6 linked regions of the Homo sapiens genome follow. The protein of the gene in region 6 interacts with the protein of the main gene of each other region in a biochemical or structural test. Each region holds a gene or a part of one and is shown on either strand. Other genes may lie near its edges. The genes, in order: MAN1B1, FAM20B, GALNT6, GOLIM4, C1GALT1 and GOLPH3.

The links.
Region 1: the proteins of GOLPH3 (region 6) and MAN1B1 form a complex in vitro, tested with the Homo sapiens proteins (one study listed by BioGRID).
Region 2: the proteins of GOLPH3 (region 6) and FAM20B form a complex in vitro, tested with the Homo sapiens proteins (one study listed by BioGRID).
Region 3: the proteins of GOLPH3 (region 6) and GALNT6 form a complex in vitro, tested with the Homo sapiens proteins (one study listed by BioGRID).
Region 4: the proteins of GOLPH3 (region 6) and GOLIM4 form a complex in vitro, tested with the Homo sapiens proteins (one study listed by BioGRID).
Region 5: the proteins of GOLPH3 (region 6) and C1GALT1 form a complex in vitro, tested with the Homo sapiens proteins (one study listed by BioGRID).

Annotation. Positions count from the first base shown.
Region 1 is NC_000009.12:137,100,485-137,103,984, forward strand, and holds part of MAN1B1 (endoplasmic reticulum mannosyl-oligosaccharide 1,2-alpha-mannosidase), read left to right. Parts: intron 1-520; coding exon 521-669; intron 670-999; coding exon 1,000-1,188; intron 1,189-1,194; exon of another isoform or gene 1,195-1,272; coding exon of another isoform or gene 1,273-3,500. Other genes in the region: uncharacterized protein LOC124902313, read left to right, coding at 1,273-2,255, 2,292-3,500. UniProt on the Homo sapiens protein: Involved in glycoprotein quality control targeting of misfolded glycoproteins for degradation.
Region 2 is NC_000001.11:179,042,894-179,046,393, forward strand, and holds part of FAM20B (glycosaminoglycan xylosylkinase), read left to right. Parts: intron 1-821; 5' UTR 822-954; coding exon 955-1,331; intron 1,332-1,879; coding exon of another isoform or gene 1,880-1,948; intron 1,949-3,500. UniProt on the Homo sapiens protein: Responsible for the 2-O-phosphorylation of xylose in the glycosaminoglycan-protein linkage region of proteoglycans thereby regulating the amount of mature GAG chains.
Region 3 is NC_000012.12:51,381,407-51,384,906, forward strand, and holds part of GALNT6 (polypeptide N-acetylgalactosaminyltransferase 6), read right to left. Parts: intron 2,177-3,500; exon of another isoform or gene 2,055-2,176; intron 1,104-2,054; exon of another isoform or gene 907-1,103; intron 1-906. UniProt on the Homo sapiens protein: Catalyzes the initial reaction in O-linked oligosaccharide biosynthesis, the transfer of an N-acetyl-D-galactosamine residue to a serine or threonine residue on the protein receptor. May participate in synthesis of oncofetal fibronectin.
Region 4 is NC_000003.12:168,026,425-168,029,924, forward strand, and holds part of GOLIM4 (Golgi integral membrane protein 4), read right to left. Parts: coding exon 3,356-3,500; intron 2,879-3,355; coding exon 2,799-2,878; coding exon of another isoform or gene 2,796-2,798; intron 1,414-2,795; coding exon 1,304-1,413; intron 1-1,303. UniProt on the Homo sapiens protein: Plays a role in endosome to Golgi protein trafficking; mediates protein transport along the late endosome-bypass pathway from the early endosome to the Golgi.
Region 5 is NC_000007.14:7,234,544-7,238,043, forward strand, and holds part of C1GALT1 (glycoprotein-N-acetylgalactosamine 3-beta-galactosyltransferase 1), read left to right. Parts: intron 1-18; exon of another isoform or gene 19-1,836; intron 1,837-1,842; exon of another isoform or gene 1,843-3,088; intron 3,089-3,500. UniProt on the Homo sapiens protein: Glycosyltransferase that generates the core 1 O-glycan Gal-beta1-3GalNAc-alpha1-Ser/Thr (T antigen), which is a precursor for many extended O-glycans in glycoproteins.
Region 6 is NC_000005.10:32,164,320-32,167,819, reverse strand, and holds part of GOLPH3 (Golgi phosphoprotein 3), read left to right. Parts: intron 1-3,500. UniProt on the Homo sapiens protein: Phosphatidylinositol-4-phosphate-binding protein that links Golgi membranes to the cytoskeleton and may participate in the tensile force required for vesicle budding from the Golgi.

The sequences.
Region 1 (3,500 bases), on a different chromosome or scaffold from region 6:
GGAACGATAACGCCCCAGACATGGGTTTGGTTTTTTGTTTTTGTTTTTTTGTTTTTGAGATGGAGTCTTTCACTGTCTCCTGGGCTGGAGTGCAATGGCGCAATCTCGGCTCATTGCAACCTTGGCCTCCTGGTTTCAAACGTGGGTTTTTTGGAGACAGAGTCTAGTGGTGTGGCCCAGGCTGGAGTGCAGTGGCACGATCTCAGTTCACTGCAGCCTTCGCCTCCCGGGTTCAAGCTATTCTCATGCCTCACCCTCCCCAGTAGTTGGGACCACAGGCATGCGCCACCATACTCAGCTAATTTTTGTGTTTTTAGTAGAGATGGGGTTTTCCCATGTTGTCCAGGCTGGTCTCTAACTCCTGGGCTCAAGCAATCCACTTGCCTCAGCCTCCCAAAGTGCTGGGATTACAGGCATGAGCCACCACGCCCAGCCAAATGTATTTTGAAGATGGATAGATAATAGGAAAACGTTGGAGCCATCCATTTGTCTCTGCATCCTTTACTGTTTTATGTCATAGAATTTGAGGAAGCCAGGAAGTGGGTGTCGAAGAAGTTACACTTTGAAAAGGACGTGGACGTCAACCTGTTTGAGAGCACGATCCGCATCCTGGGGGGGCTCCTGAGTGCCTACCACCTGTCTGGGGACAGCCTCTTCCTGAGGAAAGCTGTAAGTGTCTTGGGGTGTCCTGCAGGGAGATGGTGGACTCGCATTCAAGCAGTTACCCCTTTAGTGGACTTGTGGGGACGTGACTGTCTTCCTGTTTCCTCTTCAAATGCACTGGAGTCTGTTTCTGAGCTCATATTCGTGAGCTGATGAAGCCACTTTGATCACCACTGGCCTTGTAGAGACATTCACTCAGTGCAGAGTGATGCCCGTTTCCTTGCTGCTGTGTTGACCCCAGAGAGCCTTCAGTGTCTCCACTGAACTGCATGAAAGGGTGTAGACGAGGCCTCTGGGTGACCTGAACGTTGGTTCTCTACTCTGCTCATATACCAGGAGGATTTTGGAAATCGGCTAATGCCTGCCTTCAGAACACCATCCAAGATTCCTTACTCGGATGTGAACATCGGTACTGGAGTTGCCCACCCGCCACGGTGGACCTCCGACAGCACTGTGGCCGAGGTGACCAGCATTCAGCTGGAGTTCCGGGAGCTCTCCCGTCTCACAGGGGATAAGAAGTTTCAGGTAAGGGGGCAGGCTTTCTGGCTGGATGCGCCTCCCCTGGAGCTACCTTTTGCTCATCACAGCAGGTACTGTGTGTGTGTGTGTATGTGCATGTGTGTTTTCAGGTTTTTTACTGTGATAAAACACACAAAACGCACCACCTTAACCATTTCCAGGCGTGGTCGGTGGTGTTACATTCACGCTGTTGCAGGCGTGCAGGTCGGTGGTGTTACACACATTCACACTGTTGCAGGCGTGCAGGTCGGTGGTGTTACACACATTTGGGCTGTTGCAGGCGTACAGGTCAGTGGTGTTACACACATGCTGTTGCAGGAGTACAGGTCGGTGGTGTTACACACATTCATGCTGTTGCAGGCGTGCAGGTTGGTGCTGTTACACACATGCTGTTGCAGGAGTACAGGTCGGTGGTGTTACATGCTGTTGCAGGCGTGCAGGTCGGTGGTGTTACATTCACGCTGTTGCAGGCGTGCAGGTCGGTGCTGTTACACACATTCCTGCTGTTGCAGGAGTACAGGTCGGTGGTGTTACACGTGCTGTTGCAGGTGTGCAGGTCGGTGGTGGTACACACATTCATGCTGTTGCAGGAGTATAGGTCGGTGGTGTTACACACATTCACTGTTGCAGGCGTGCAGGTCGGTGGTGTTACACATTCACGCTGTTGCAGGCGTGCAGGTCGGTGGTGTTACATTCACGCTGTTGCAGACGTGCAGGTCAGTGCTGTTACACACGCTGTTGCAGGCGTGCAGGTTGGTGGTGTTACATTCACACTGTTGCAGGCGTGCAGGTCGGTGGTGTTACACACATTCATTCTGTTGCAGGCGTGCAGGTCAGTGTTACACACATTCACGCTGTTGCAGGCGTGCAGGTCGGTGGTGTTACACACATTCACGCTGTTGCAGATGTGCAGGTCGGTGCTGTTACATTCACGCTGTTGCAAGCGTGCAGGTCGGTGGTGTTACATTCACGCTGTTGCTGGCGTGCAGGTCGGTGGTGTTACACACATTCACACTGTTGCAGACATGCAGGTCGGTGCTGTTACACACATTCATGCTGTTGCAGGCGTGCAGGTCGGTGGTGTTACATTCACACTTGCAGGCGTGCAGGTCGGTGGTGTTACACACATTCATGCTGTTGCAGGCGTGCAGGTCGGTGGTGTTACACACATTCACACTGTTGCAGGCGTGCAGGTCGGTGGTGTTACATTCATGCTGTTGCAGGCGTGCAGGTCAGTGGTGTTACACACATTCACGCTGTTGCAGGCATGCAGGTCGGTGGTGTTACACACATTCACGCTTTTGCAGGCGTGCAGGTCGGTGGTCTTACATTCATACTGTTGCAGGCGTGCAGGTCGGTGGTGTTACATTCACACTGTTGCAGGCGTGCAGGTTGGTGTTACACACATTCACACTTGCAGGCGTGCAGGTCGGTGGTGTTACACACATGCTGTTGCAGGCGTGCAGGTCGGTGGTGTTACATTCACACTGTTGCAGGCGTGCAGGTCGGTGGTACACACATTCACACTGTTGCAGGCGTGCAGGTCGGTGGTGTTACACACATTCATGGTGTTGCAGGCGTGCAGGTCGGTGTTACACACATGCTGTTGCAGGCGTGCAGGTCGGTGGTACATTCATGCTGTTGCAGGCGTGCAGGTCGGTGGTGTTACACATTTTCACGCTGTTGCAGACGTGCAGGTCAGTGGTGTTACATTCATGCTGTTGCAGGCGTGCAGGTCGGTGGTGTTACATTCACGCTGGTGCAGGCATGCAGGTCGGTGGTGTTACACACAACGCTGTTGCAGGCGTGCAGGTCAGTGGTACACACATTCACGCTATTGCAGGCGTGCAGGCCGGTGGTGTTACATTCACGCTGTTGCAGGCGTGCAGGTTGGTGTTACACACATTCACACTTGCAGGCGTGCGGGTCGGTGGTGTTACACACATTCATGCTGTTGCAGGCGTGCAGGTCGGTGTTACACACATTCACACTTGCAGGCGTGCAGGTCGGTGGTGTTACACACATTCACACTGTTGCAGGCGTGCAGGTCCGTGGTGTTACACACATGCTGTTGCAGGCGTGCAGGTCGGTGGTGTTACATTCACACTGTTGCAGGTGTGCAGGTTGGTGTTACACACATTCACACTGTTGCAGGCTTGCAGGTCGGTGGTGTTACACACATTCACACTTGCAGGCGTGCAGGTCAGTGGTGTTACACACATTCATGCTGTTGCAGGCATGCAGGTCGGTAGTGTTACACATTCATGCTGTTGCAGGCGTGCAGGTCGGTGGTGTTGCACATTCATGCTGTTGCAGGC
Region 2 (3,500 bases), on a different chromosome or scaffold from region 6:
TGATTGGCCCATGGGTGGCCATGGGTGGGCCCAGAAAAAGCACCATAAGTTCTCACTGTGGTTTGCGGACTCTTAACCAGAACCGACAGCCCAGCCCCCATGCTTCAGGCCATCCCTGGCTTGAAGGTGGGGCTTCACTGGGGACCCATCCCTTTCCGCCCAGGAGCCTGCCTCCTGCCACCATTCATGTCATCCACAGTGCCCAAGCTGTTTGTACCAAGGGATGCCTGCAGGCCTACACTGAGCCATCCTCAGTCCTCCCTTGGCCTCCCTCCCATGCTCATTGGTGCCCAAAGTCCGGAGTGGGCTGAGACAGCAGGGGCCTGGTGTATCAGCACTGCCCCAACCACATATATACAGGTCACGACATCACCTGGGCTTTGCCACAATTTTGCTCCACCCCAGAGTGGGTGCGGGGAGTGGGGAGAGGCCAGGCAGCAGGAGTGGCATTTTGGAGCCTGTGGGTGTAGCTGTGGCTGGGTGGCTGCAGCTGTACCCAGGAACACGGGGCCCCTGCTCCACCATCTTGGAAGAGGGCAGGGCTCCCACCTGTTCCCAGCTCCTTCCAGCTCCGTGGAGTGTGCAGCCCTGGCCATGCCTCTCCCACTGCAGCTGGTGTCTTCGCAGCAGCTGCTCCAGTTGGGCCACTGCTGCCATCATTAGGTCCTTCTCCAGATTAGTTAATTTTAAATTATTGAACCTTCTTGAGCTCAAGAATAGAAAGCCTAAAAGGGTGAGTCATATATTAGAGGCTTACAAAAGATTCAGGGGTGGAAGGACAGAATTTTTGATCAAATTTTGCTTTGTACTTGGGCTTGCAGGAACTGTGGAAGGTGCATCAGTGAAGAAATGGACCAATGTGTATAATCATGGAATCTCCTTGCTAACCATCACCACCAGCTCTCCTTAATACATGAGCAAGAGTGGGTCAGGGGAGAAGGAAAAGAGGTCAACATGAAGCTAAAGCAGCGAGTCGTGCTGTTAGCAATTCTCCTTGTCATTTTTATCTTCACCAAAGTTTTCCTGATTGACAACTTAGATACATCAGCTGCCAACCGGGAGGACCAGAGGGCCTTTCACCGAATGATGACTGGCTTGCGGGTGGAGCTGGCACCCAAGCTGGACCATACCTTGCAGTCTCCCTGGGAGATTGCAGCCCAGTGGGTGGTTCCCCGGGAAGTGTACCCTGAAGAGACACCAGAGCTGGGGGCAGTCATGCATGCCATGGCCACCAAGAAAATCATTAAAGCTGATGTGGGTTATAAAGGGACACAGCTGAAAGCCTTACTGATACTTGAAGGAGGCCAGAAAGTTGTTTTCAAACCTAAGCGGTAAGTTTTGATCTTGGAAGCTGCATGTGCTAGTTGGTTGATTCATTTAACTTGGGATTTATATAAGATTTATTTTGTCATCTTCTCTTGGAAGTCTCTTCAGTAAAATAAGAGGGGTAGACTAGATCTCTAAAGTCTTTTCTAGCACTTAACATGAATCTACCTTTATAGTATCATATAGAATAGTCTTCCTGCCCTAAAAATCCTCTGTGTTCTACCTACTCATTTTTCCCTCTCTGCCCCAGAACACCTGGTAACCCACTGGTCTTTTTACTATCTCCGTAGTTTTGCCTTTTCCTGAATGTAATATAGTTGCAATCACAGAATGTAAGCCCTTTCAGATTGGCTTCTTTCACTTAGTAAAGTGCATTTAAGGTTTATACATATCTTTTTGTGGCATGATAGTTCATTTGTTTTTATCACTGAATAATATTCCATTGTCTAGATGTACCACAGCTTAATTATCCATTCACTTACTGAAGGACATCTTGGTTGCTTCCAAGTTTGGGGCAATTGTGAATAAAGCTGCTATAAACATCCATGTGCAGGTTTTTGTGTGGACATAAATTTTCAACTCATTTGGATAGATACCAGAAGCATAATTGCTGGACCACATGGTAAGAGTACGTTTCATTTTGTAAAAAACTGCTAAACTATCTTCCAAAGTAGCTGTACCATTTTGTGTTTCTACCAGCAATGCATGAGAATTCCTGTTGCTCCACATCCTCACCAGGGTTTGGCATCAGTGTTTCAGATCATAGCTGTTCTAATAGATCTCTTATTTCTTTCACCTGTTTTAAGTAAAGAATTGGGCCATTTTAGTTACCTTAGTTAACTAAATATGTATGTTGTTCATGATCCCTTTGGACTTCCTAGGGATCTACAGAGATAATTTGTGTGACAATTCTGTGATACAGTTAATTATTTTTATTTATTTATTTATTTCTCTACACAAGACAGCTTGGAGGGTATAGTTAATTTTCTAAAAATGTTTTCTGAGTGTATGAATCTGAATTAGGTTAACATCATGATGGTGATTTGTATTCTTTTGCCGGGAGTTAGTTACCAATGAATATTCTCAAAGTTTGTAATGTCTGAAATCTTTTGGGTACTAAACATTTTTTTCATTCCTCAGTAGAGCTTTTGAAAAAATTATAACATGACTTTAGATTTCTTTCTGGAGTGGGAGAAGAAATGTAGGGAAAAGATGGACAAAATTCAACTCCCTTTCTTACCCAACTATTAGTAAATGAAAGGCAGTCAGAGCATGAATGTATAGGGAGCCCAGAAATGGAAGGGATCACTGTTGGTCTGGAACTGGGAAATATATGTCAGTGATGTGGAAATTAGGAAAGTTAAAACATTTGGTAGACTTTCAGAGAATAAAAATTTGACTGGGGCTGGGCGTGATGGCTCATGCCTGTAATCCCAGCACTTGGGGAGGCCGAGGTGGGTGGATCACTTGAGCCTGGGTGATGTAGTGAGACTCTGTCTCTATAAAAAAATAAAAAATTAGCTGGGCGTGGTGGTGTGCACCTATAGTCTCAGCTACTTGGAAGGCTGAGGTGGGAGGATGGGAAGATTGCTTGAGTGCGAGAGTTTGAGGCCGCAGCAAGCCATGCTCGTGCCACTGCCCTCCAGCCTGGGTGACAGAGTGAGACCTGTCTCAAAAAAAAAAACCAAAAAACAAAAAAAAACCGTGGTTATGTGGGCCTGGGATCTAATTTCTGTAATGCACACTATTTGCCAGGGATTACACTAAGTACTTTTGTATCTCTTAATCCTTTAAACCCTTATACGAAGGTTTAACCTTTTTGGACAATTTCAGTTCTTATTTCCTGAATAAGAAACTGAGGTTCAGAGAGTGTAACTAACTTGACAAGGTCACCTCACATCAATCAGTGGTACAGAAGTTTGAACCCATATTTGTTAGAGTTGTAAACAGCTTGTATTCTGCCACACACATGGAATTCTCTAAGTTTGTTTGCTTCCCATAAGTGATGACGTGGAGCACTCATCATCAAAAATCGCATTTAGCTTTGAAGTTTGGTCTTTGACTTCTTGGCCTGAGAGATAAGCAGCATAAACAGAGTAATGGAAAAAGGCAAACTAAAGACAAAAATAAAATTTGTATATAAAGAGATGGCCGGGCACGGTGGCTCACGCCTG
Region 3 (3,500 bases), on a different chromosome or scaffold from region 6:
CAGAACTTTCTGTGCAGAGTTCTGGACACATAAGCTCACTGGTTAAGCACTAGACATCAATGGCAAGGGACCTGGGCACAAATTCCAGTTCTTCCTCTTCTAGTAGTAGCACCTACCTCCTAGGGTTGTTACAAGGATTATGCTCCTTCCCCACAAAATTCATGGACAAAGCTTAGCAGTCTCTGCACATGGTAAGTTCCCACAAAGTGTTAGTTTTGATCATTAGCAGCTGTGTGACCCTTGGGTAATTTACTTAATCCCTCTAAGCCTCAATTTCCTCATCTATAAAGTGGGGGCAACTAATACCTAACTCACAGGGTTGTGGGGAGGATTAAATCAGATAATGTAGGTAAAATGTTTGGCAGAGCACCTGTCACACTAAGCCCTCAATAAATGGTATCAACTATTTCTATTATTATGATAAATCCCTGCTTCACTTCCCAGCAGTTATCCTCAAGCACCTGGCCCTTGGCCAAAGCCACGTTCATTACTCCCTGCATGTTTTGCTTAAAAATAACTCTGGTTGTACTATTTAATGCTATTGTTTAAACGCACAAGCTCCTGCCTGTGGAGAGGCCTGGTGTCTGAGACCTTGGGAGTATGTGGCCATCGTGATCTCAAGTGGGGAGGTGGATTCATTCTGGACTGGGGTACAAATGTGGCTTCTTTTATAACATCAGATTCAGCAGCACCGTCAAAAATCAAACAAAAGAAATCTCTTTGAGCATCTATTTTGTATTAACTATTGTCTAGGAGATAGGAGAGATTTGTTTATTCCACCAGTATTTACTGAATAACTGCCTCTACCAGGTACTCTGCAAGAGGCGGGGGACACAGAGAAGTGCAAGGCCAGCCCTCAAGGATCCTACAGTCAATTGGGGGCATCAGATTTTAAACAGAGATTACCCTGTGAGAAGCAGAATCAAAGAGGTACCCTTGAGTGCTGAAGGAGCCGGCATGCAGGAAACTCAGCAAATGGGGGAGGGCAACATCTGTGAAGAAATCTCACGGGGGCAGAAATGGGCCGAACACTAACTGGCGAGTAGGAGTCAGCGAGGCGAGGTGAGCACATTTCAGGCAGAAGGCACAGTACCTGCAATGGTCTAGAGGTGGGAGACAGAAGAGCCAGTCACAGAACTGTAAGCAGTCTGGTATGGCAGGAGTAGCAGAAATTGGGCCTACAGAGGTGGCTGAAACCAAGTCCTAAGGGCCTTGTTCATCATGCTGAGGAGCATTTGCCCTTGACCCAAGGCATGGGGAGTAATAAAGCGTTAAGCTGGGAGCCCAGCATTACAGGAAGAGCAATATGACAGCGGTGGAGGGTATCTTGGAAAGGGACCTGCTTGGCAGCTGGATGACCCATTCGGAGTCTGACCCAGGAGAGTTAGTAGCAGTGTGGATGGAAGAGGGAGGGTATGGTGCCTAGGAAGACCCCCTTGGGTGATGGGGTGGGACAGTTTACCCCGTCTGGTACACAGAGGGACACAAAGGCTCAATTCCTTTCCCCAAGGGATTTGAAAATCTTATTGGAGAACGAGAACTGATAGCACTGACCAGGTGAAGGAAGCACCTGACCAGGGGAGATTCAGGAGCAGGAAAAGGACCTTTCACTGAATACTCTTTTGTACTTTGAACCCTGACTATATTACTTATTCAAAAATGAATAAAATTAAAGCAGAATAGCACAGACAGTAAGAGCTAAGCTGAGAGAGGTAGAGTTCCCTGTGGGTTTGAGGAAGGCTTCGGGGAGGAAATGGGGATTCAGTGTAGCAGGAGTTTCTTGTCACAGAGGTTGAGCTATGCTGGGGCTAGCACAGGGGGATTTGCTTGAGCTAGACACCTCATCAGTTCTGGAACTGTCCCGGCTAAGCCCACACAGAGGCCTGCAGAATGGGGGAGTGTTTGCCATGACAGCTTTGAACCGTCCTGCAGGCTTCGTCTTCCCTGCTACTTTCCATCTACCTTCCCACTCCAGCAAGAAAGAGGGAGCACAGTTAGAAACAAAGGCATGGTAAGATTGTAGTTACTAACTGTTGCCAGTGCTCAAGACTCACCCCCTCCAGGAAGGCCTCCTGACTGATTCACTCAGAATCACCTAGGTTACTCCAACTCTTTCATCCTGGCACTGCCTCGTGGTCCCTCACAGCAGGGCCTGTTTTTGCTTCTTTTATTTTCCCTGGAGAAAGAAATATAGGGTTAAATTGAGCTCTTCCTAGGCATCTAATCTCTCAATCCCATCTGGCTGCCTGAAGCTTTCTCTCTCAAACCTACAGTTCCTCAAGGTACTAACCACATCCTGAACCGAAATGAGACACCTGGGATTAGCCTTGGTGGTGAGGCACTCATTCTCTAGTTTGTTTGCTTAGCATGAGGGCAACAGGAAGAGTCCCTTAGAAGAGACACAGAATCTAGTGCAAGCCACAGGACTTTGGGGTTAAGGATTTCTGCTCCCTGTGTAGGAGATGATTCCCAGAAGTATGGTTAGCAAGGTCGTGGAGGTCGCCCCTCCACCAGCCTTGGAGAAAGAATAGCTGCTATTCTTTGCTATTGTTTCAAGTACAAAGCTTCACGAGATCCGCCCCTGGTGTCTTGTATATCTCCCTCACCTTTGGGCTCCCACACCTGGCCTCCTGCTTTCCTGGCAAGTGTGCCCGCAGCCCCCATCCACTCATTTCCCTCTCGCTGTGGCTCAGCACTTCTTCCCAAGTCTTTTTCCTCCAGCTACCCTTGGGCCTGCAACTCTTTGGACCATCCTTGGCTTTGATCCCGAGATGATGCCAGAAATCCTCTCTGAAAAGCCTGCCTAGATTGAACAAATGGGATTTGCTTCCCTGGCCCCACCGGCCAGAACACAAACTTACCTTCTCTCACTGGTGTAAGGAACTGAGGCTTTACCCAGCCCAGCTTGTATCAAACTGCTGATTACAATCCACTGTGATATTATAAAATAAATTCAGAGTGTTGCAAATTAGCATTCAAAAATTTCTTTAAAAGACCAGTTAGGACCAGGCACAGTGGCTCACACCTGAAATCCCAGCACTTTGGGAGGCCATGGTGGGCAGATCACTTTAGGCCAGGAGTTCAAGACCAACCTGGCCAACATGGTGAAACCCCTTCTCTACTAAAAATACAAAAATTAGCCAGGCATGGTGGCATGTGCCTGTAATCCCAACTACTCAGGAGACAGAGGCAGGAGAGTTGATTGAACCTAGGAGCTGGAGGTTGCAGTAAGCAGAAATAGCACCACCGTACTCCAGCCTGGGTGACAGAGCAAGACTCTGTCTCAAAAAAAAAAAAAAAAAAAAGACCAATTAGCAAAAAGAGACCAGTTAGCTGGGTGTGGTGGCATAGGCCTGTAATCTCAGCTACTTGAGAGGCTGATGCTGGAGGATTGCTTGAGCCCAGGAGGTTGAGGCTGTAGTTAGTTATGATCATGCCACTGCACTACAACCTAGGCAATAGAGCGAGACCCTGTCTCAAAAAATAAAAATAAATAAATT
Region 4 (3,500 bases), on a different chromosome or scaffold from region 6:
TACGTTCAAATAAAACAGAAAGAGAGGAACAAGTGGGATTAACCATTTCTAATTAAAAGGAAGAATGGTACAAAGGCCAATGTTTCCCAGCATGTTCCCCAAAACAAACAAACAGATGACAGGAAAGTAAAGGATCATATAGTCAAGAAATCAAAGCCTACAGCAGTTCCCAAACAAGTGACTGAAATGCCCTTCCTCCCACCCCATGCACATTTGCAGGCCTTTGTACACTTGCTTTCTTGCTCTCTCCTGGATAGTCTCTTGCTCTCTCATATGTTTCTGCTCTCAAGTATTAGCCTTTTCCTGAAAATATTTCAGGACTAGGTTCCCTGGAGCATATTTTCAGAAATCTTGATGCAAGGAATGCCAGGGAAAGGTGTTCTGCCACATCTCAGTGCAAGTTAAGTGGAAAAGCTGTTTCCAGCAAAAGGGCTTTAAGTAGCTAGCAGGATGACTTTCTTGATGATTAGCAAGGACATGGGTCCTCCTTTTAATCAGGGCTCATGTGACATAGCACAGACCGACTGTTATAAACATGGTAGTTGATCTATTAGCAAGAGATGACAGGGCAGCTAAAATAAGCTGTAAAAATCATCTACGCATACACGCAGGAACAGACTCACTAAACATTTGCTTGCTTCACTTGTAGGCAGGGCCAAGGATCTAGCCCACCCAGCTGAACTAGAGGTCTCAGTCTTTTTTGGTAAACACAAACAACAATGCTGGTTATTAGATGTCTACCTACTTATATTATAAATTTTCTGTACCATTGCATACCTGAACAACTCTTCATGTCTCAGACCACATATCCTTATCCATATATTTATTAAAATGGTCACTAGACTGCTAAGAGATTACAGAGAGTCACACAAATACCTAACACTCTAGCAGACTGCTCAACATGCTCAGGAAGGGTTAGTTTCCTTTCTCTGGTCCCATCTCCAACTTCCACACTTGCCTTTTATTCCTCCTAGCTTTCAGAGTTACTACATATTTCAGTGTCTCTCAGTTTTGCTTTTCTAGGTTTTAGTTTTATTAATCTAAAAGTCATCAGAAAAAAAAAATCCTGGTTTTGTTTTTTTTTTTCCCCCAGAGCAACTTTTAAACCAGCTCATCACATACACGTACACCATGGTTTACAGTTAAAAACACTGCCCATATATAATTATGCAAGCCATTTTCCTTCTGGGCTGAGGATATAACAGAAATATCTGGGGCTGAAGGCTGGCATCAGGCAAGTTTTCAACTCTCTTTCCCACCTTATGAGTTTACATGTGTCAGGGGCAGAAGAGAGGATACTTACATCTGCCTCAGATTCTGGGTCGGCTTCTCGGGGTCCTTGTTCACGAGGCTCATGTCTATTACCTGGATCTCCTTCTGCTTCATCTTGGTGCTGGTTGTCTCTTTCATAGGCTAGCAAATCAAAGGAACTAAAATCAGCCCAAAATGAATCAAACAGGATTTCCCTTTCAACTCAAAGAAAAGCCACCAGTGGACTTTTCTACAGACTACAATACCTCCACCTCTGTTAACTCAACATAAGGCCTATGTCCTGGCTTTTCTGAATAAGGTTATGTTCTCTTCACAGACTGTGTGTCTAGAGAGATGATATGGGTCAGACACTTTTCTTCTAAAATAAATATTTTTCACAGGAGCTGTAATTTTTCCCCCATATGCAAGAAAACAACAACAATCAAAACTCTCTCAATAAAAGAAAGCCCAGTTGATTGGACACTGCTGAAGAAATCAACTAATGTTTGATAATATCAGAGGAAGTAGCTGGGCTCCAAAAGAAGAAATTGATAGTTTCAGGAAATGCAAGGAAGAACTGCCCCATCTGTGGAGCTCAGAAACAAATATAGCCCATCACATGTTTTCTGATGTCATCACAGTAATGATGATGACCGCCACAGCCCAGAAACAGCACACATTCATACTCAGACATTTACTTGCTGCTTTTTGAAAAAATATTTAGATAAAGAGAATTGTATGAGCACAAAAAGAGAAGAACAAATCACTTTTTAAAACAAGTAAGATAGAAGAGGAAAGTTTAAGTATATGGAGTGTACTAAGCCTAGAGAAAATGATGATACGGGGTAACTTACCATCAGCCTTCAAGTGCACAAAGGGGTTTACTACATAGAGAAGAGGACAAGCCATTCTCTAGTCTTACTGATATGAGAACAAAAAAGCTTAAAGTGCCACATGGCGGACATAAGGAAAACAATTTCTTGACTGTAAGAGCTGTAAGATATCACAACGGGCTATTGAGGGAGGTTGTATGTAATCACTTTCTTTCTGACTTTTTAGAAAAAGATACACATCTAAGTGTTAGTGGTGCCAGAGAGACAGTAAGTTACATTCTGGTTCTATTATAACAGTAAGCAATATTTGATAAATTACATATTAAGTGCTTATCATAAATGAAAGCTACTATTGACTTAATTTGAAAACATTTTAAGGCAATGATGTGAGGACTTCCAAGGTAAGGAGAAAATGCAGATGTTTCCCAAAGCATAATAATCCTATAATAATTTGTCAGAAATATTATAAATATTTAGTATATAAAAAGCTTAAACTACAGGGAAAATGATAGAGAGGAAACAGATTATCTTGAGCATTTTTCACTACCAGCATGTACTGTTTAAGAGGATTAAGAAAAAGACATGATTCACAAACCTCCTTTGCACTTAGGTATGCATACAGCTCATTGATGTTATATAATATTGGCTCACTGATAATATACAATGTTATCAAGTAATTTATTAAAACATTCATCATCTAGGAAGTCTCACCACCTCCTTCCTCTCCTTGGATTCCCTGGTCCTCTGCTCCCTGAACGATATCATTATCCATAGCATCATAATGAGCTTGCTGCCTACAAGAGACACAAACATGATAAATCCAGTGGGACAAAATTCAGAGGCACAGTTTGACATAGGTCATTTATCTTTAAAGACAGTAATAAGTAATGTTTCTCAACATTTTTAAGAAGCCATGAAAAATTTTTAAAAACCTCTTATGTATGCAATTAGGTATAATAAAAATTCCAGATACACTTTCAAAAGGTATCTTAAAAAGATAAAATATCTTTTAAAGATAAAATAAAATAAAGTTGGCACAAAGCCTGCAAGGCTATTTGGAGACCTAACCTACCACTTTTGAGCAGAAAAAAAATATTATTTTTAAAATTAAATATTTGGTATTTAATTTTCAAGTAGCTGTCCTGCCTTGGCTATTTGAGCAATATGAGCCCCTTAACTTCATGAATCACAAATGCACAAAACTGTTTTTAATTTGCGTATGAAAACTGGAGCAGGGGCTGTCTTCGTTCATTAAGGAAGGGGAAGGCTACCGGAGCTGCTCCTGGTGCTGCGGCCGGCCCTCCTCAAGCTCAGCCTGCCTCTGCAGGGCCATCTCTCTTGCCACCTGCTGCTGCTGCTGTTCCTGCTGCCGTAGTAAGTGCCCCTGCAGCCTCTGCTGGTGCAAAGCTTCCTGGT
Region 5 (3,500 bases), on a different chromosome or scaffold from region 6:
GGTTTACTTTATTAAGCAGTAAACATAAGCAGTATTTTAGTCTAAATTTTGTCATATTCCTGTCTGTATCTGTTAATTAAAATGGGCTATATATTCCAGATATTAAAAATAATTCTTGGTTTGCCTCAAGAGAAGGGAATTGCTAAAACTCAGATTTATTTAGGGAATAAGATATTAATTTTGAATTCGTTTTTAAGTAGAAATAGTTCAGAACCCATGATTTGGGGAAGGGCATAACTATTCAGATTTGATTTGTTTCTGAAAATGTTTTTCTAGGTTCAGTTTTGTTATATGTGTGTCTTTGGTTTTTGTTACTTGTTTTGGTCATAGCTTTTGCTTAAGTCTTGTTTTCCTAGAGAAACTTGAGGTGTATGTAAGTTTCGATTTATATTTTTATAATTAGTTAATAGAACTAATCTTTTTTTTCCTCAAGAGGCACAAAGAACAAGGAAGTTAAAAACCAAGGATGCGTTCTAAAGACTTCATTTTCTCCTAGCCTCCTACCTCTAACCAGATTTTCTCAGTTGAGTTATTTATGTGTCCCTTAAGTGTTGGTTCTCTCCAAGTTTCTGTCCTTTAGCTGTTTGTCTGTGTGACATCATTAACCCGCATAATTTTAATTTCCTTCTATTTCTTACTGTCTTTAGCCCAGTTCCAGACATTGTGAGGTGACATTAACACAATGCAAAATACGGTTTGACAGAAAATAATATAAGTAGCTTGAAAACAATTGGAATTCTGGGATGCAGAGGGTCCACTATTCAGTTTTTTCTCTTCTCTTCTCAGTAGTAAATTATTTCTTCACCACCTCTCAAGCAGAGGTTGAATGGTGAGATTTCAAAGCCTGGTTCCATTTTATCAACTAGCAAACATAAACATACTATTACAAAGTATGTCGTGTTTTGTGATTGTTTATGTAACAGTAATTCAGCTCTGAGCAAGTGCTCTGTGTTCCTACAGAACAGTTTGGTCACTGTGTATTTGCTCTGTAGCATAGCCACATGTCTTTAGGTGATCAATTGGAGGCAGAGTTCCCTACTAATAGTAAGCCGTACGAGGCCTCACTGCAGGCATGTGTATTAGATACATACTTGTCCAGCTCAGTGGCCTACAAAATGTGGGGTATGCTAAAAGTTTGTCTACTCCCTTCAGACTCAGCATGTGTAAATTGAGTCTCCTTTTCCTTCCTACTCCTAGAAGTTGCTCTTCCTCCTCTATTCTTTCTTTTATATGGCTCATTACCATCTGTCTGTGCCAGAAATTAAGAAATCATGGTAGGTGCTTGCCTTCACATGCTAGCCAATTCGATTTGTCAGTACATTCTAACAGTGCTGCTACTTTACCATTTTTCATCTCTTTTCCTCTCAGTCCTCAGTGCATTTCCGATTCAGGCCTTCAGCTATACCCATGTACCTGCACTCAACCAAACTTCACCATTCCTTTTGGTGAACTTATAACCTATTTTCTGTATTATGTCTTTATTTTTTAATCTTCCTCTTTGTTCTACCTAGGTCCCTATCTACTGCTCTGTAGGATTTATTAGCCACTATTTTCCTTCAGCACATTGAATCCTTTGTTCATACCTCTATAATAACATCTCTTAGTATTTAGCAATTATTGGTTTGTGTGTCAGGCTCAGGCTCCCTGAATGGACTGAATTCCTCTGCAGCAGGAAATGTGTCTTACTCATTTTTTTCATCTCCTATGCCAGCCCATGCCCAGTACAAAGCAATTAGTGAATGAAAAATTATTTATCAAGTTCAGCGGTGGACAAACCTGTCTTACCTGAATGAAACAGATTGGGGATTCCTGCATTCACTGTTCTATCCATTCAAGGTTTGGTATATTTGTATAGCCAAGAGATTGGGCTCCTCAAGGATATGAGATGTCTATGCTTTCTGACTGAAAGTAGGGTGATTTTGTCTGCTGTTGTCCTTTTGGATTGTGAATCTTGATACTCAGAGGGACATGAGAATTTTTATTTTTTATTTTTTTTGAGATGGAGTCTCGCTCTGTCACCCAGGCTGGACTGCAGTGGTGGGATCTCGGCTCACTGCAACCTCCGCCTCCCGGGTTCAAGCAATTCTCCTGCCTTAGCCTCCCGAGTAGCTGGGATTACAGGCGCCCACCACTACGCTTGGCTAATTTTTTGTATCTTTTTTAGTAGAGACAGGGTTTCACCATGTTGGCCAGGCTGGTCTCGAACTCCTGACCTCGTGATCTACCCGCCTCAGCCTCCCAAAGTGCTGGGATTACAGGCCTGAGCCACTGTGCCCAGCTGGGACATGAGAATATTTTTATGTTCCACCCAGCTTTTCCCATTATTCCCTCTCAGTTGGTTAACTAGTATATTATATGCCTCCATTGTTAATTTCTCATAGGACTAAGCTTCTGTAACTTGCTGTTTGACCTTAATTTTAAGCATATGCTTCGTCAGGATACTGCCCAGAACATTGCTACTGAAAGTCAGTTCATAGACTCATTCTGGTCCTATAACTAAAGAATGTCTGCTTATTTGGGAGTAAGCAGAAACTTTTATTGTAATTGGAGTAATTTTGTCTGAAGCTAAAAATAAAAATTTAGGACTTGTTTTATATTTTAGTTTTATTTTTCTTATAATTCATTTTTATCCTATTTACACAGTGTAGACCTCTTTTAGAAATAAAAATTGGCCTTTCACCACAGATAGCTTGGGAAGTACTCATCTAGAATCTCATCATTGAGCTCTTCCTCTGTACCGGTGCTACTCAAAATGCGGTCCTGGCCTGACACTTTGTCAGCTGTTTGTCTGCACAAGATAATGAGGTTACACTAGGATGTAAATCAGTTTTACGCTCACTGCTTACTTAAATGGACAGTTTTAAGTTTCAGTTTTAAGCTCACTGCTTAGTTAAGTGGACATTTTGATTGGTTGGTTCTGATAGTAGGCCTTTTTCAAAGTAATGTGTTGCTTTCTGTTCTGGTATAAGCTCCTTATTTCTTTGCAAACCTGTAGTTTAAAGAGCACTGCTCTAGACCATCTTGGAATTCCCATGTCTACCATTGTTCTCTTCTGTTTTTGATTGGTGGATTTACATTTTGGAATGAGGTATGTGACTATCAGAAAGTAATCTCAACTCCTGTGCTTTGACCTTTTACCACCTCAGGGTACTTGTAGAAATTCTTAATAGTGGATTATTGTGAACTTCAAAAATGAACTGCCACTTCAGCAGCATGTCTTTCCTGCTCTTCAGAAACTCGTTCAGAGCAGTGAGAAATTTCTGTCAGTAATCTATTAAAAACTGGCTGCTTTCTTTTATGAAGTGCCAAGCAGAGACTATTTAAGGCAGCATTTAGCATGCCTATGAAGCACCAGGAGAACTTATTAAAATGCTGATTCTGAGTCAGTAGGTCTGGGCCTAAGATTATGCATTTCTAACAGGCTCCCAGGTGATGCTGCTGCTTTTAATCAGTAAACTACAGTTTGAGACGAATTTAGATTATAATGTCAACTCTTACTA
Region 6 (3,500 bases):
ATCATGCCCAGCTAATTAAAAAAAAAAATTTTTTTTTGTAGAGACGTGGTCTCACTATGTTGCCTAGTCTCGAACTCCTGGCCTCAAGCAATCTTCCCGCCTTGGCCTCCCAAAGTTCTGGGATTACAGGTGTGAGCCACCACGCCTGGTCTGCTTATTATACCTTTTCAACAAGATTTTATACTGTTGAAATTACTTTTTAGTGCTTTGGGATTCTTTTACAATATGGTCAAAATATTCACTAACTCATCTCATAAGTTATACTAATATTTGATATTTGTTAATTTTGGACTACCTGAGAGTTCTTGTATGGAGCATTTGAATTACGTTTTAGAATTGTATTTTGAAGGCTGGGTGCGGTGGCTCACACCTGTAATCCCAGTACTTTGGGAAGCCGAGGTGGATGGATCACCTGAGGTCAGGAGTTCAAGACAAGCCTGGCCAACATGGTGAACCCCTGTCTCTATTAAAAATATAAAAATTAGCCAGACATGGTGGCGAGCACCTGTAATCCCAGCTACTCGGGAGGCTGAGGCAGGAGAATCACTTGAACCTGAGAGGCGGAGGTTGCAGTGAGCCAAGATTGCGCCACTGCACTCCAGCCTGGGCGACAAGAGTGGAACTCCATCTCAAAAGACAAAACAAAACAAAAGAATTGTATTTTGAAGTTATTTTGATAGATTTTGAAATATTTGGGGGATTTTTTTGATATTTAAAGAAATACACTTTTATAATATCATCTTACATGTAAATCTTAAATACCCTGGAGGCATCAGGCATTATGCTTGTTCTGGTACATAATGTTAAGCTTTTGGCTGTACACTTTTTTATGTCTTTGCAAACTCCCCCCCCCTTCTAACAGCATAACTTTTCTACTGCCATTAATCAGATTAAATAGTATAAAACTATGCTGTAGTCTTTGTTTAGAGGATTTATCTTCATGTTGTGAGTCTCCCTTTGAAGCAGCACAAAAAGACAGTGCTTGTCCTCCTCCTGCTTTTTTTTTTTTTTTAAGATGGAGTCTTGCTTTTATCACTCGGGCTGAAGTGCAATGGCACCGTCTTGGCCCACTGCAACTCCGCCTCCTGGGTTCAAGTGATTCTCCTGCCTCAGCCTCCCAAGTAGCTAGGATTACAGGCGCCTGCCACCATGCCCAGCTAATTTTTGTATTTTTAGTAGAGATGGGGTTTCACCATGTTGGCCAGGCTGGTCTCGAACTCTTGACCTCAAGTGATCCGCCCACCTCGCCTTCCCAAAGGTCTGGGCATGAGCCACTGTGCCCGGCCATGCTGCTGCTTTTTAGTAAGTGTCCTGACAAGTGCCAAAAGTGGAAACCTGGCTTCATTTTGAAATTGATGTTTTTGGCTTCAGGTTTCTCTTATCAAAGCTGGGAAGACTGCAACCTGTTTTAATAGCATTGTACAGTATTACAATGTAATCTAGTACATTTTGAGGTTTTTGACTTAGGTATTACAAATATATTTAGAACATAGGCTATTTCTCTTCCCGTTTGGTAAACCTCTCATCTGCAAAAACACAACTAATATTAAAGTACAGTGTATTGCCAACAAGGATGTTTCTGGTCACTTTTAAGAATAACATTTTAAACAACAACAAAAAAATTTACTTATTTTTAAACTTAATGCATTGTATTTGATTTACATATTCCTTTAATGGAGAAGTTCTTAAATTGGAGTGAACAGAGCTGAGAAACTTTGTGAATTCTCTGCAGTTGTGTGTTTTCTTGGGGAAAGAGGACAGAACTTTCATTAGATACTCAAAGCATTTAGTGAATCAGGAAGGTTAAAAATTACCAAACAGGAACTGTTTGTTTTAGCTTAAGGTTTTCGTCTTTTCTTTTTCCTTCCTGAAAATTAACTACAGAAAATTCCAGGTTTCCAGGGTTGTAGCGAGTTGAATTTTAAGTGATTTGAGATACGAAGTCCACATTTCTGTGGCCTGTCTAGAGGTTCTCATCTTGCTAAATGACATTTAGAAGCAGCATAACTGCTTCTAATCTAGGATTACCACACATCTAGGATTCTAACAGTTTTCATCCATTCATCAAATGTTTACTGAGCACATGCTCTGTGAGAGGCCCTTTACTAAGTACAAATTCACTGAAGAACATGTCTGTCTTCAAGTTCATTCATTTTAGTTCTGTGTGTCAAAGCTCATATAGTAAACTACAAAACTAAATTATGTTGCTGTTCTAGAATTTTTTTTTTTTCTCTTCTGAGACAGAGTCTTGCTCTGTTACCCAGGCTGGAGTGCAGTGGTGCAATCTATGCTCACTTCAACCTCTGCCTCCTGGGTTCAAGCGATTCTCCTGCCTCAACCTTCTGAGTAGCTGGGATTACAGGCACTCACCACCACACAGGGGTACTTTTTGTATTTTTAGTAGAGACAAGGTTTCGCCATGTTGGCCAGGCTGGTCTCAAACTCATGACCTCATGTGATCCACCCACGTTGGCCTCCCAAAGTGCTGGGATTACAGACATGAGCCACCCTGCCTGGCCTGTTCTATAATTTTTTGATGTCATATATTTCAGGCTGGCATTTGGCAGTCACTCAGTACAATGACATTACTCACATTAAGAATACATAATTTACCTAACCCTGGCAGGTGTGGTGGCTCATGCCTATAATCCCAGCACTTTGGGAGGCTGAGGCAAGGGGATTACCTGAGGCAGGGAGTTAGCGACCAGCCTGGCCAACATGGTGAAACTCCATCTCTACTAAAAATACAAAAATTAGCCAGGCAGGGTGGTATGCACCTGAAATCCCAGCTACTCGGGAGGCTGAGGCAGGAGAATCACATGAACCCAGGAGGTGGAGGTTACAGTGAGCTAAGATCATGCCACTGCACTCCAGCCTGGGCAACAGAGCAAGACTATCTCAAAAAAAAAAAAAAAAAAAGAATACATAATTTACCTTATTAAGTAAGCTAATATTATTTATTAAAGTAAATTTACTTATTAAATAAATTTACTTAATACATTTACTGTATTAATTAAGTAGATTACTGGCTTTATTAAGTAAATTATGTATTCCCAGTGTGGTAATGTCATTGCCAAGGGAGTGAAACTTGGTTCTGGGCGTGGTAGTGAAAGAATCGTACTCTTGGCCGGGCGCGGTAGCTCACCCCTGTAATCCCAACACTTTGGGAGTTGAGGCGGGTGGATCACGAGGTCAGGAGATGGAGACCATCCTGGCTAACATGGTGAAAGCCTGTCTGTACTAAAAAAATACAAAGAAATTAGCTTGGCGTGCTGGCGGGCTCCTGTAGTCCCAGCTACTCGGGAGGCTGAGGCAGGAGAATGGCGTGAACCCGGGAGGCGGAGCTTGCAGTGAGCCCATATCGCGCCACTGCACTCCAGCCTGGGCAACAGAGTGAGACTCCGTCTCAAAAAAAAAAAAAGAATCTTACTCCTCTTATGTATAAAAAGGCACACTTACAGTGTACAAACAAATATGTATATTCCATCATATTAAAATTT